Homo sapiens: one gene and its partners. The protein of the gene in region 1 purifies or fractionates together with the protein of each later gene. This does not show direct contact. Each region holds a gene or a part of one and is shown on either strand. Other genes may lie near its edges.

What was found.
Region 2: the proteins of ABAT (region 1) and QDPR fractionate together in Homo sapiens (co-fractionation; one large-scale study listed by BioGRID). This does not show direct contact.
Region 3: the proteins of ABAT (region 1) and RAD23B fractionate together in Homo sapiens (co-fractionation; one large-scale study listed by BioGRID). This does not show direct contact.

What each region holds. Positions count from the first base shown.
Region 1 is NC_000016.10:8,775,540-8,779,190, reverse strand, and holds part of ABAT (4-aminobutyrate aminotransferase, mitochondrial isoform 1 precursor), read right to left. Parts: intron 2,848-3,651; coding exon 2,701-2,847; intron 1-2,700. UniProt on the Homo sapiens protein: Catalyzes the conversion of gamma-aminobutyrate and L-beta-aminoisobutyrate to succinate semialdehyde and methylmalonate semialdehyde, respectively. Can also convert delta-aminovalerate and beta-alanine.
Region 2 is NC_000004.12:17,487,963-17,491,613, forward strand, and holds part of QDPR (dihydropteridine reductase), read right to left. Parts: intron 2,784-3,651; coding exon 2,700-2,783; intron 1-2,699. UniProt on the Homo sapiens protein: Catalyzes the conversion of quinonoid dihydrobiopterin into tetrahydrobiopterin.
Region 3 is NC_000009.12:107,286,241-107,289,891, reverse strand, and holds part of RAD23B (UV excision repair protein RAD23 homolog B), read right to left. Parts: intron 1-3,651. UniProt on the Homo sapiens protein: Multiubiquitin chain receptor involved in modulation of proteasomal degradation. Binds to polyubiquitin chains.

The DNA of each region.
Region 1 (3,651 bases):
CCTCTGTTTACCCTGCTATAAACTGAAGGATTTAAATGCTGTTGACCCCACTGGGGCCGTGGTGAGACTTTAGCACGATAAGGTTCACATGTTAAGTCCTAAGCCTGGGGCTGGGCACTTGGTGGATGCTCCACAGATGTTAGCCATCTCCATCGTCAGCTCTTCTAGAAAGGTGGTTCTTCTGGAAGAAGAAATGCCTGTCCTCCCTCAGGGCTTTGAGACTGGGAGCTGTACTGGATTGAATAGTTTCCTCCCACTGCCCCCTAAATTCATGTTTACCTGGAACCTATGACTAGGACCTAATTTGGAAATAAGGTCTTCGCAGAAATAATTAGTTAGGTTAAAATGAAGTCTTCCTGCATTAGAATGGCCCCTAATGCAATGACTGTTTTTTGTTTTTTGTTTTTTTTTTTTGAGATGGAGTCTCACTCTGTTGCCCTGGCTGGAGTGCAGTGGCACTATCTCGGCTCACTGCATCCTCTGCCTCCCAGGTTCAAAGATTCTTGTGCTTCAGCCTCCTAAATACCTGGGATTACAGGCACCTGCCATCACACCTGGCTAACTTTTTTTTGTAGTTTTAGTAGAAACTGGTTTCACAATGTAGGCCAGGCTGGTTTCGAACTCCTGACCTCAAGTGATCCACCTGCCTTGGCCTCCCAAAGTGCTGGGATTACAGGTGTGAGCCACAGCGCCCGGCTCAATGACTGGTATCTTTATAAGAAGAAGACAATCTGGAGACAGACACAGGCACAGTGGGGAGAACACCAAGTGACGCCAGAAGCAGAGTGAAGCCTCCACACGTCAAGGAACATGAAGGATTCCCGGCAGCCACGAGAAGGTGGAGAGGGGCATGGAACAGATTCTCCCCCAGAGCCTCGAGAAGGAGCCAACTCTGCTGAAACCTTGATTTCAGACCCTGGCCTCCAAACTGTGAGAGAATAAATTCTTGTTTTAACCCACACAGTTTGTGGTGATTTTTTACAGCAGACAAGGAAACAAATGCAGGTGCCTAGTCTGGAGGACCTTGATTTCACCTTACTCTCTGCTGTCCATATGAAGGACAGCAAACAAGGGCTTGGAAAACCCCAAATAATTTCAGGGTACTGGGGGCTGAGTTGGGGGAGCAAGTCTTATTTCACGGCAGCTCATTGGTAGAAACTGGAGACATGGTCCTATTCTGGGGGTGACAGAGCCGGGCACCGTGTTAGACACTTATGTGCACAATTTGTTTCTTTTTGTGGAGTATGGGTTCTCACCATGTTGCCCGGGCTGGTCTCAAACTCAGTTGAGCTGAAGGCAATCCTCCTGCTTCTGCCTCCCTAAGTACTGGGGTTACAGGCATGAGCCCCTGTGCCTGGCAGTGGGCACATTCTTGAATCCCCTGCCAGTGAAGAAGGGCTCACTTTGGTCTACACAGATAAGGAAACTGAGGCTCAGAAGTCCTTCCAGCACTTACTCTAGCATGTTCCTTGCACTTGTCAATTGCTGGGGAGCTGGCAGTTTGAACACACCCCTCCCTCTCCCACAGAGTGTGGCCCTGGGATGGTTTAGATTAAAGTCTCTTCCATTTAGACACCCCTTTAGGCCTGCCTGCCACACTCACACACACACATCCCCACACGTCCTTACGGTTAGGAGTGACCACGTGACCAGCTCTTAATCAAGTGTTAGAAGTATTATGTGAGATTTCTGGGAAGGCTGCTAAAGACAAGAAGGGGGCCACTCTGTCCTTCCCTTCTTTTTCCTTCCTATTGCCTGGAATTGAGATGCGATGGCTGGAGCTCCAGGAGCCATTTTGGCCCATGACGAAACCTTGAGGGTAGAGAGTAATCCAGCTCCAGCAGGGGAGGGCAGTGCTGCCGAGTGGTAAGTATGCAACAGGTTGCACAAAGGCGGGAATAATGAACACACTAGAGGGGGTGAGAGAGGGAGTGCTTGGGGGACTCTCAAAGGGGGGATGTCTGAAATTGGTGTCAAAAGATAACCAGGGCCGGGCACGGTGGCCCATGCTCGTGAAATCCCAGCACTTTGGGAGGCTGAGGCAAGCGGATCACCTGAGGTCGGGGGTTCGAGACCAGCCTGGCCAACATGGTGAAACCCTGTCTCTATTCAAAATACAAAAAAATTAGTAGGGCATAACGGCACATGCCCGTAATCCCAGCTACTTGGGAGGCTGAGGCCGGAGAATCTCCTGAACCCAGGAGGCAGCGGTTGCGGTGAGCTGAGATTGCGCCACTGCACTCCAGCCTGGGTACAAAGCAAGACTTGGTCTCAAAAAATAAATAGACAAATAAAATAAAATAAAATAAATAAGAAAGATAACCAGTGCCGGCAGGCGCTGCCCAGCACTTTGGGAGGCTGAGGTGGAAGGATCGTTTGAGGCCAGGAGTTCAAGGCCGGACTGGCTAACAGAGCTTGACCATGTCTCAATATTAAAAAAATAAAAAATAAATTAAAAAAAACAACAACAAAGAAAACCAGGAGTTCAGGAATAGGGGTTGGAATGGGATGGAGGGATAGGGAGGCATCCCCTGCAGAGGACACAGCATGTGCAAAGCCCCCAAGGCTAGGAGCAGCACAGCCCGTTACGAACTGCTGGAACAGCAGGCACAACACCATGCCGAAGAGCTCCAGTGTTGCCCCGGAGGCTGCTGCGGGGAGCCATGGGTGGTGGGGGCGGGGCAGGGGAGGGGGTGTTACCTGGAGGTCCAGCAGTCCTGTGAGCAGGGCCTTCCCGGCATGGGCTGCATTATTTAGCAGGTCCTCCCGCTTGATGATGTTGATGACCTCAGCCAGCAACAGGTTCTTGGACGGGTCCCCCAGCCAGGTGTTGAAGATCCGGTAGGGCTGGAATGAGGAACGGGTGTTGGAAGGCTTCACACACATGCACACCCTGCAGGAGTCACTTACCCCAGGCGCCCCGCCTCCTCTCTTGAAGAGGAGAGAAACTAATCTAGTGGGCATCTACCAGAGGCTGGCAGGGGAACACACCCAATCTCGCTGAATTCTTCTCTACCAGAGGCTAGCAGGAGAACACACCCAATCTTGCTGAATTCTTCCAACAGCAGCCCTGCATGTAGGAACTGCTATGGGGAGGACCAAATCGTCCCATGCACTGGGAAATCCCTCAGTCCCAGGAAACCAAGACAGTCAGTTCCTTAACTCCTATAACCCTCATTTTATACAGGAGGAAGCTGAGGTTCTGGGAGGCTAAGTGATTTGTCTAAGGCAAACGTGACTTACAGATGGAGTTGGGACTGGATTGCTGGCAGTGACCCTCAAAGATCATCCACTTTACCCCTCCATGAATGATTTAGGGTGGCCATGCGGCTAACTGAAACACCCTTCCCAGCCTCCCTTATGGCTAGAAGTGGCCATGTGACTGGGTCTTAGTCAAGTATTGGAAATAGACATATTATGTGAGATTTCTAGAAAGGCTGCTAAAGACAAGAAGGGGGCCACTTTGTCCTTCCCTTCTTTTTCTTTCCTACTGCCTAGAATTGAGATGTGATGGCTGGAGCATCAGAAGCCATTTTGGACCATGAGGCAACCTTGAGGGTAGAAACTACATGTAGGAATGGTGAAAGGACGTTGGCCCCTGATGGCTGTGTGTGTGTGTGTGTGTAAATCTGTATGCACACATGGCAGTAC
Region 2 (3,651 bases), on another chromosome or scaffold:
TTTAAAAGATTCTAATTTGGCCAGGCGTGGTGGCTCACACCTGTAATCTCAGCAATTTGGGAGGCTGAGGCAGGTGGATCACTTGAGCCCAGGAGTTTTTGAGACCAGCCTGGGCAACTGGGTGAAACCCTACCTCTAAAAAAATACAAAAAATAGCTGGGCATGGCACATGCCTGTAGTCCCAGCTACTCAGGAGGCTGTGGTGGGATGATTGCTTGAGCCCCGGAGATCAAGGCTAGGGTAAGCCATGATCGTGACACTGCACTCCAGCCTGGGTGACCCAGTGAGACCCTGTCTCAAAAAAAAAAAAAATTGTTTTTAAAGATTTTAATTAGTTCATTCAAAGAGAGAGACACATGCACAATACTTTGCTATATTACCTTCTCATAAATTTATGAGAGAAACAGATGCAATTCATTTATTTGGCATTTTTTTAATCAAACATTTATAGAGTACCCACAGCTGCACCAAACAATGGAAAAAGAGATAGAAAAAAACAGACTATTACAATAAAATGTTAAATACAGTAACAGGGCCTTTCACAAATCTGAGGAGAGGAGCAACTGACCCCACTTGCAGCAGTCAAAAAGACCCTCTAAGAAGACAGGAATGAAAAAGGGCAAAAGAAATTCACAAGAAACAAGAAGTAGATGATAATTCTTTAACACAAAACATTTACATTTGAGTACATCATCCATTTTGACAATTCACCAGCTGAGACTTCGGACCTTCATTAACTAAAAAGTGCTCAGCATTTCCTTCCTGGGAGACTCCCAGTGCCAATCTGTAACCTTCTGGGCCAGCGCTGATGTGTAAAGGTCCAGTCATTCAGGCCCCTACTCTGGGGTTTGAACAAGCTCATATGAGCACATGGGCTCAAAAAACAAAGCGTTGCTAAAACTCTCTAAAGTACTGTCATGTCATGGCCTCATCTCTGGGGACAGGGTAGGGCTTGGTGAGGGAAGGCTCTGAAAGAGACCAGTGCCGTTTGGTTGTGTAGGGTTTTGTGTGTTGGTTACACATGTTTTTTTGTTGTTTTGTTTTTTTATACTTTAAGATCTAGGCTACATGTGCACAGCGTGCAGGTTTGCTACACAGGTATGCATGTGCCATGTTGGTTTGCTGCGATGCATGTTTTAAATGGTTTTACTTCTTCACCCTCATCTGCAGCGTGGATAGGTGAGTGAGAACGCCATTCTAACCAGGGATGGTAGAGGAAGGATGTGCTCACAGACATCTCAAAGCAAACTTTATGCCAGCTTTTCTGAGAGTTTTCAAATACCACAAATGGGTGGATGTGATCTCTAGAACAAAAGGGGGCCTGTGACAGCCCGTCCTCTGTGGGTCTGTGGCTCAGCACGAGTTCAGACACAAGATCCCAGATGTTCCATCTAGAGTAGGTCTTAGATCAGTATCTCAAGTGTGGTGGGAGTGTCGGCCTTTAAAAAGAAATTCAAACACAAACACAATTCAAAGCTTGATTTCCTCTACAACTTCAATTTTTTTCCTGCAAATCAAGCATGAAGCATGATTCCTGGCATAGACAGAAATAACTGTCAGCACACCAGTTAAGACCATAGGTTCTGCAGCCACACCACTTGTGTCAGATCCCGGCTGTGCTGTGTGACCTTAGGCGAGTGACTTAGCCCCTGCCATCCCTCCAAGTCTCTAAGCCTTAAATAAAAATGACAGCTCCTCCCTCAGAGTTTGCTATGAGCATTAAATAAGAGTTATGAAGTGCTTAGAATGGTGACTGGGACATAAAAAGTGTTCTGTAAGTACACATTTCAAACATAAAACGCAAGTCCCAAATTTCTCCCGATTTAATTTAAATGAGATTGTGACATCAGGCCAGAAGCACACTGCTAACTTCACAAACATCTCTTATAAACAGTCGTCAAAGCAGTTTACACAGAGGCACTACTGGGTCAGGCTGTCACCTTGACCCTCTCGGCACCCCTGCTCCCTGTGGGCAGGGATCCCATCTTTGTCCTCACCGTGACCCCAGAGCCGAGGGCAGCACCTGGCCCATAGTGGGTGCTCGATGAACACATGCTTACTAACTAGAGGGGCTTGAGGAACTGATACCTAAACAAACACAAAAGAGGAATTCAGCTCTCTGTCCCATGAGCGTTCAAATGCCACCCATATTCACAAATGGGCAAAAAGGATTTCGGAAATTAAAGGGCACTTTCTGTGGGTCTGTGGCTTGACACAGATTCAGATATGTGCCCCCAGGCCATCTACGTGGTGTCCCCCTCCCCCATGGAGTCTCCTCATCACAGCAGTAAGGACACAAACTGCAGCTGGGGATCACTGAGCACTTGTTATGGCCAGACACTGTGTTGAGTGCTTGCCGCACACTATCACGTTTAATCCTAACAAGCATGATGGACCTCATGATACAGGTGGGGAAACTGAGGCCTCAGCAGGTCAATAATGTGCTCAGCATGGCCGGTGGTGAGGGAGCGAGCCAGGATTCATGTCGGCACTACCCATTCTGCCACTGTGCTGCCTGTCTCCAAGTCCAGCTACTCTGAGATTCCGTCTGATGTGCAATGCATCCTCAGAGTCCCAGAGACCTCCCAAGACCACCCGGATTGACGATCTCAGGGAACACAGACTTGTCCTCTGGACCACAGCAGGCAGAGAATAGGGGCTGGAAGCTGCTCAGTCATGGACATGTCTGTAATACTCACTCAACTAGGAATTCTAAGGGTGTCCAGGAGCTGAAGTCAGCCTCAGGCATTGATTTCCTGTTCATCGGGGTATCCAGGGTAACCCTGCAATGGACACAGATAAGCACGTCATTCATGTCGCTCCTTTCTAACAACAGGTGCCCAGTCCCCCTTGGCCAGGAAAACGCAAACATACAGCAGGACAACCTAGAGCCTCTGGCACTGAGGGTGCTATTTACATGGAAAGATCAGACAGAAAGATAAGCAGAGAGAGAGCAGGAAGCTGTCCCCGCTAGCAAAGGCCAGATCTGAGCATAATTCAATAAGGTGCGCTGTGGCTCACCACTTAGGCAGATAAGAACAAAACAGAAGGAGCCACATTTTGCCTTTTTAAAAAAGAGTCTTCACTGAATTAAACTGCTTTGTTGCTGTGTCTTTATTCACTCCCTAACATGCAGCACACTCATTTCTAAGGATTTAAGATAGTTATATGCCTTTAAATATGAGAATACTAAAATACTAAAATTTTAAATATGTGGCTATTTTCCACAAAACCTTAAGATTTTTGGCAGAATAATATAGAATTCAGATATGCATGAATCTCCCAAGAACATCAAGGCCTCAGGAATCATTCGAATCATTCAAAACAGCTGTGGGAATCATGTCACAGAATCACAGAACCTCACAACTAAAAGGGAACCAGAAAGTCAATCAGTGCAGTCCCTACAGTCTCAGCATCCCTTTATAGGACCACAGGCAAGAGGCAAGCCTGCTGGTGCTGGAAGCCTTCCAGCGAGAAGGAGTAGCCTCCCTCCAAAGCAGCTGCCTCTGCCTGGGACAGCTGATGGGGGACAGTCCCCCGATGACCAACAGAAACACCTCCAACAGTTTCCCATATTCTCTCTCTCTCACACATACATACCCCATATAATGACTTGAAAGACAGAACTACATATAAAAAAGTAAAATGTGT
Region 3 (3,651 bases), on another chromosome or scaffold:
AAGTACAAACACTGAGTTGAATTTAATCACATTTGAGGCTTTCTAAGCAAGAACAATGGAGGGAGAGTGGTACCACATTGCCAAGCACTGTTAATATTATTTCAAAACCCATATACCAATAAGTTAGTACTTTCATACTAGTATTCTCATTTTACAGCAGAGGACCAAAAGGCACATACTGAGTAACTTGCCTGAGGTGACACAGCAAGTGGTACAGCCAACTGTACCTCTCAAAACATATCCTAATTCCATCTACTTCTCTACATCTCCACTCCTACTGCCCTGGTTCAAGCTGCAATTACTTAAAACTACTGCACAAGCCCCCTAACTGATGTCTCTGCTTTTCACTCTTGCCCACCCCACAGCATCAAAGTAACCTTTAAAAATCCTACAAGAAATATTTCTTGGCTAGGTGTGCTGGCTCATGCCTGTCATCCCAGCACTTTAGGAGGCTGAGGCAGGAGGATCACTTGAGGCTAGAAGTTGGAGACCAGCCTGGATAAAACATCAAGACCCCATCCCTACAAAAAAAAACTAAAATTAGCTGGGCGTGGTGGCATGCCCCCGTAGTCCCAGCTACTGGGGAGGCTTAGGGTGGAGGATCACTTGAGCCCAGGAGTTTGGGGCTGCAGTGAGCTATGATCATGCCACTGTACTCTATCCTGGGTGACAGAGCAAGACCTTGTTGAAAAAGGAAGGGAAGGAAGGAAGGGAAAGGAGTGGGGAAGGAAGGGAGGAAAGGAGGGAAGGAGAGGAAAGGAGAGGGAAGGGGGAAGGGAGGGAGGGAGGGAAGAAGGGAGGAAAGGAGGGAGGAAGGGAGGGAGGAAGGGAAGAAGGGAGGGAGGAAGGGAGAGAGGAAGGGAGGGAAAAAGAGAAAAGAGAGACAGAGACAAAGAAACAAAGATTTCTGTCCTGCTTGTAAATGTTTCCAAGTTTACCCTGAAAACCCCTAGCCTAACTCACTTGCCTAACTCACTCTCTTATCTCTTACCCAACTCACCCTTATCTCTTACCCATCACCTTAGCAATGCAGGCTTTTTTTCAGTACCCAAAACACATTCTTAAAGGTCTTTGCTCTAGCAGTTCCCTATAGAAAACATTCTCTTCATTCTCGAGTGCTCATTTTTACTCAGCTCTCAGCTTAAATGTCACCTTATTCAGAAAGGCCTTCAGTGACTAGTAAATTTAAAAGTAGCCACCCAGATCTCCTGAGCTCAGGAGTTCAAGACCACCCAGGGCAACATGATGAAACCCTGTCTCTACTAAAAATACAAAAAAATTAACCAGGTGTGGTGGGGCACACCTCTAGTCCCAGCTACTTGGGAGGCTGAGGCAGGAGAATCGCTTGAGCCCCAGAGGCGAAGGCTGCAGTGAGCCAAGATGGCGCCACTGCACTCCAGCTTGGGCTACAGAGTAAGACTGCATCTCAAAAACAAAACAAAACAACAACAAAAATGTAGCCACCCAGTGAAGTATTATCAAATACTTTATCCTATTTCAACTTTCTGCATAGCACTTACCATTACCTGGTTTTTAAAATGTATTTTTTGACAGTTTTATCCCACTAGAATGCACATACCATCACAGCAGGGCCTGACATCTAGTAAGTACACAGCAAATATTTATTAAATAAATAAATCAACATGCAAACACACTACGTTGGGGGATCACTGCTTTGCCAGTTCACCAAAAGAATATATTCAGTTCATTCAAAGATCTTTACTAAATGCCTACTGTGTGCACGGCATCAAAACAGCAAAAGTCTGGCAAAAATGTACCAGATTTCTCAGTTTCTTCCTGTATCTTGTTCTGCCAATATGCCAAGAACTCTTAATTTCACCTCTGTGATATAGTATTTTTAATACATTTACTACTCATTACCTTAATCTAGGAAGCTTGTATAATATGAAATTGTATCTAGCATGACTATATTGAAAATACAATAAACCACCACAGGAATACTTCACTAATAAATGATGGCTAGTAAATACTGTATAATACAGAGCAAGTACTAAAGCAATATACACACACAGTTTTTTTGTTTTTTTTTTTTTTTTGAGATGGAGTTTCGCTCTTGTTACCCAGGCTGGAGTGCAATGGTGCGATCTCAGCTCACTGCAACCTCCTCCTCCCAGGTTCAAGCGACTCTCCTGCCTCAGCCTCCTAAGTGGCTGGGATTACAGGCATGCACCACCATGCCCAGCTAATTTTCTATTTTTAGTAGAGACCAGGTTTCACCATGTTGGTCAGGCTGGTCTGGAACTCCTGACCTCAGGTGATCCACCCGCCTCGGCTTCCCAAGGTGCTGGGTAAAGCAGTATTTTATAACAATCACATTATAGAGGTAAACCACGAAATTAGGTAATTCTTCACAGCACACTAATATGCTATTTATAGATATTAAAACTGATGTCTTTGCAATTCTCTTAGCAAAAACATCCAATGTATATGTAGAATTTTAATGTCACTTATATACTAATCCAATCACATTTCAGCTTTTGCATTTAAAGTCTCATCTCAAATTTACTGAGTTTTGTTTTTAGTTGTTCAAGGCAAACAGTGTCAAGAGTTAGACTGCAGGATTAATTTGTATATCACATACTTTTTCTTGTCACCATTTCAGTGATGCAATAAAATACTGCACTGTATTTTTTTTATCTCAAAAGGTTTATTCCTAAATCTACCTTTCTTAATGTTTTTAAGCAACAGTAATATAAAACACTAATTGACTATAAAACTGAGCTTAAAAACTGTATTCCATTTCCCTCTAAATGTCCATCACACCATTAAACTTCAGAATTTTTTTTTTTTTTTTTTGAGACGGAGTCTCGCTTTGTCGCCCAGGCTGGAGTGCAATGGAGTGATCTCAGCTCACTGCAACCTCTGCCTCCTGGGTTCAAGCGATTCTCCTGCCTCAGCCTCCCAAGTAGCTGGGACTACAGGTGCATGCCACCACGTCCGTCTAATTTTTTGTATTTTTTTTAGTAGAGACGGGGTTTCACCGTGTTAACCAGGATGGTCTCGATCTCCTGACCTTGTGATCCGCCCACCTCGGCCTCCCAAAGTGCTGGGATTACAGGCATGAGCCACCACACCCAGCCTAAACTTCAGAATTTTTAAGAATTTCAGAGAAGCAGTGCTCTATCACACATCTCAAAATGCTTTAATATGTAGGCTACTTAAAAGTCTCCCACAATTTTTACAGTAAAAAACAAAAAAAGCACATAATGAAGAAAATCTCCTAGCAATGGTCTCCCTACCCCACACATACCACCTTCTCATTTTGTTTCTATATTGTTTGAATATTTTATAAGAAGGCTTGCATTACAATTGTAGAAACAAAAAGATCTTTGCAAAGATTAACACTAAAGGCAGTGGTCATGTAATGTATCACAGTAATAGTCAAGTAAATGGTACAAAATGCCTAATAAGTCTAAGAAAGTTTTGTTAAAACTAGGGCAAATAAAAACACCTTAAAACAAATTATCTTGCTCTTTCCATTTTGTATATCCCCCTACTCTATAGCCAATGAGCTTTGACTAAGTCAATAAGGCTCCCAGAAGCCCCAGACCACGTTCTACAGGTCCCTGTACTCCTCCAGTCCTGCCAGCAAAGCTCACTAAACATTTACTTGTTCAACAAATGAATCAT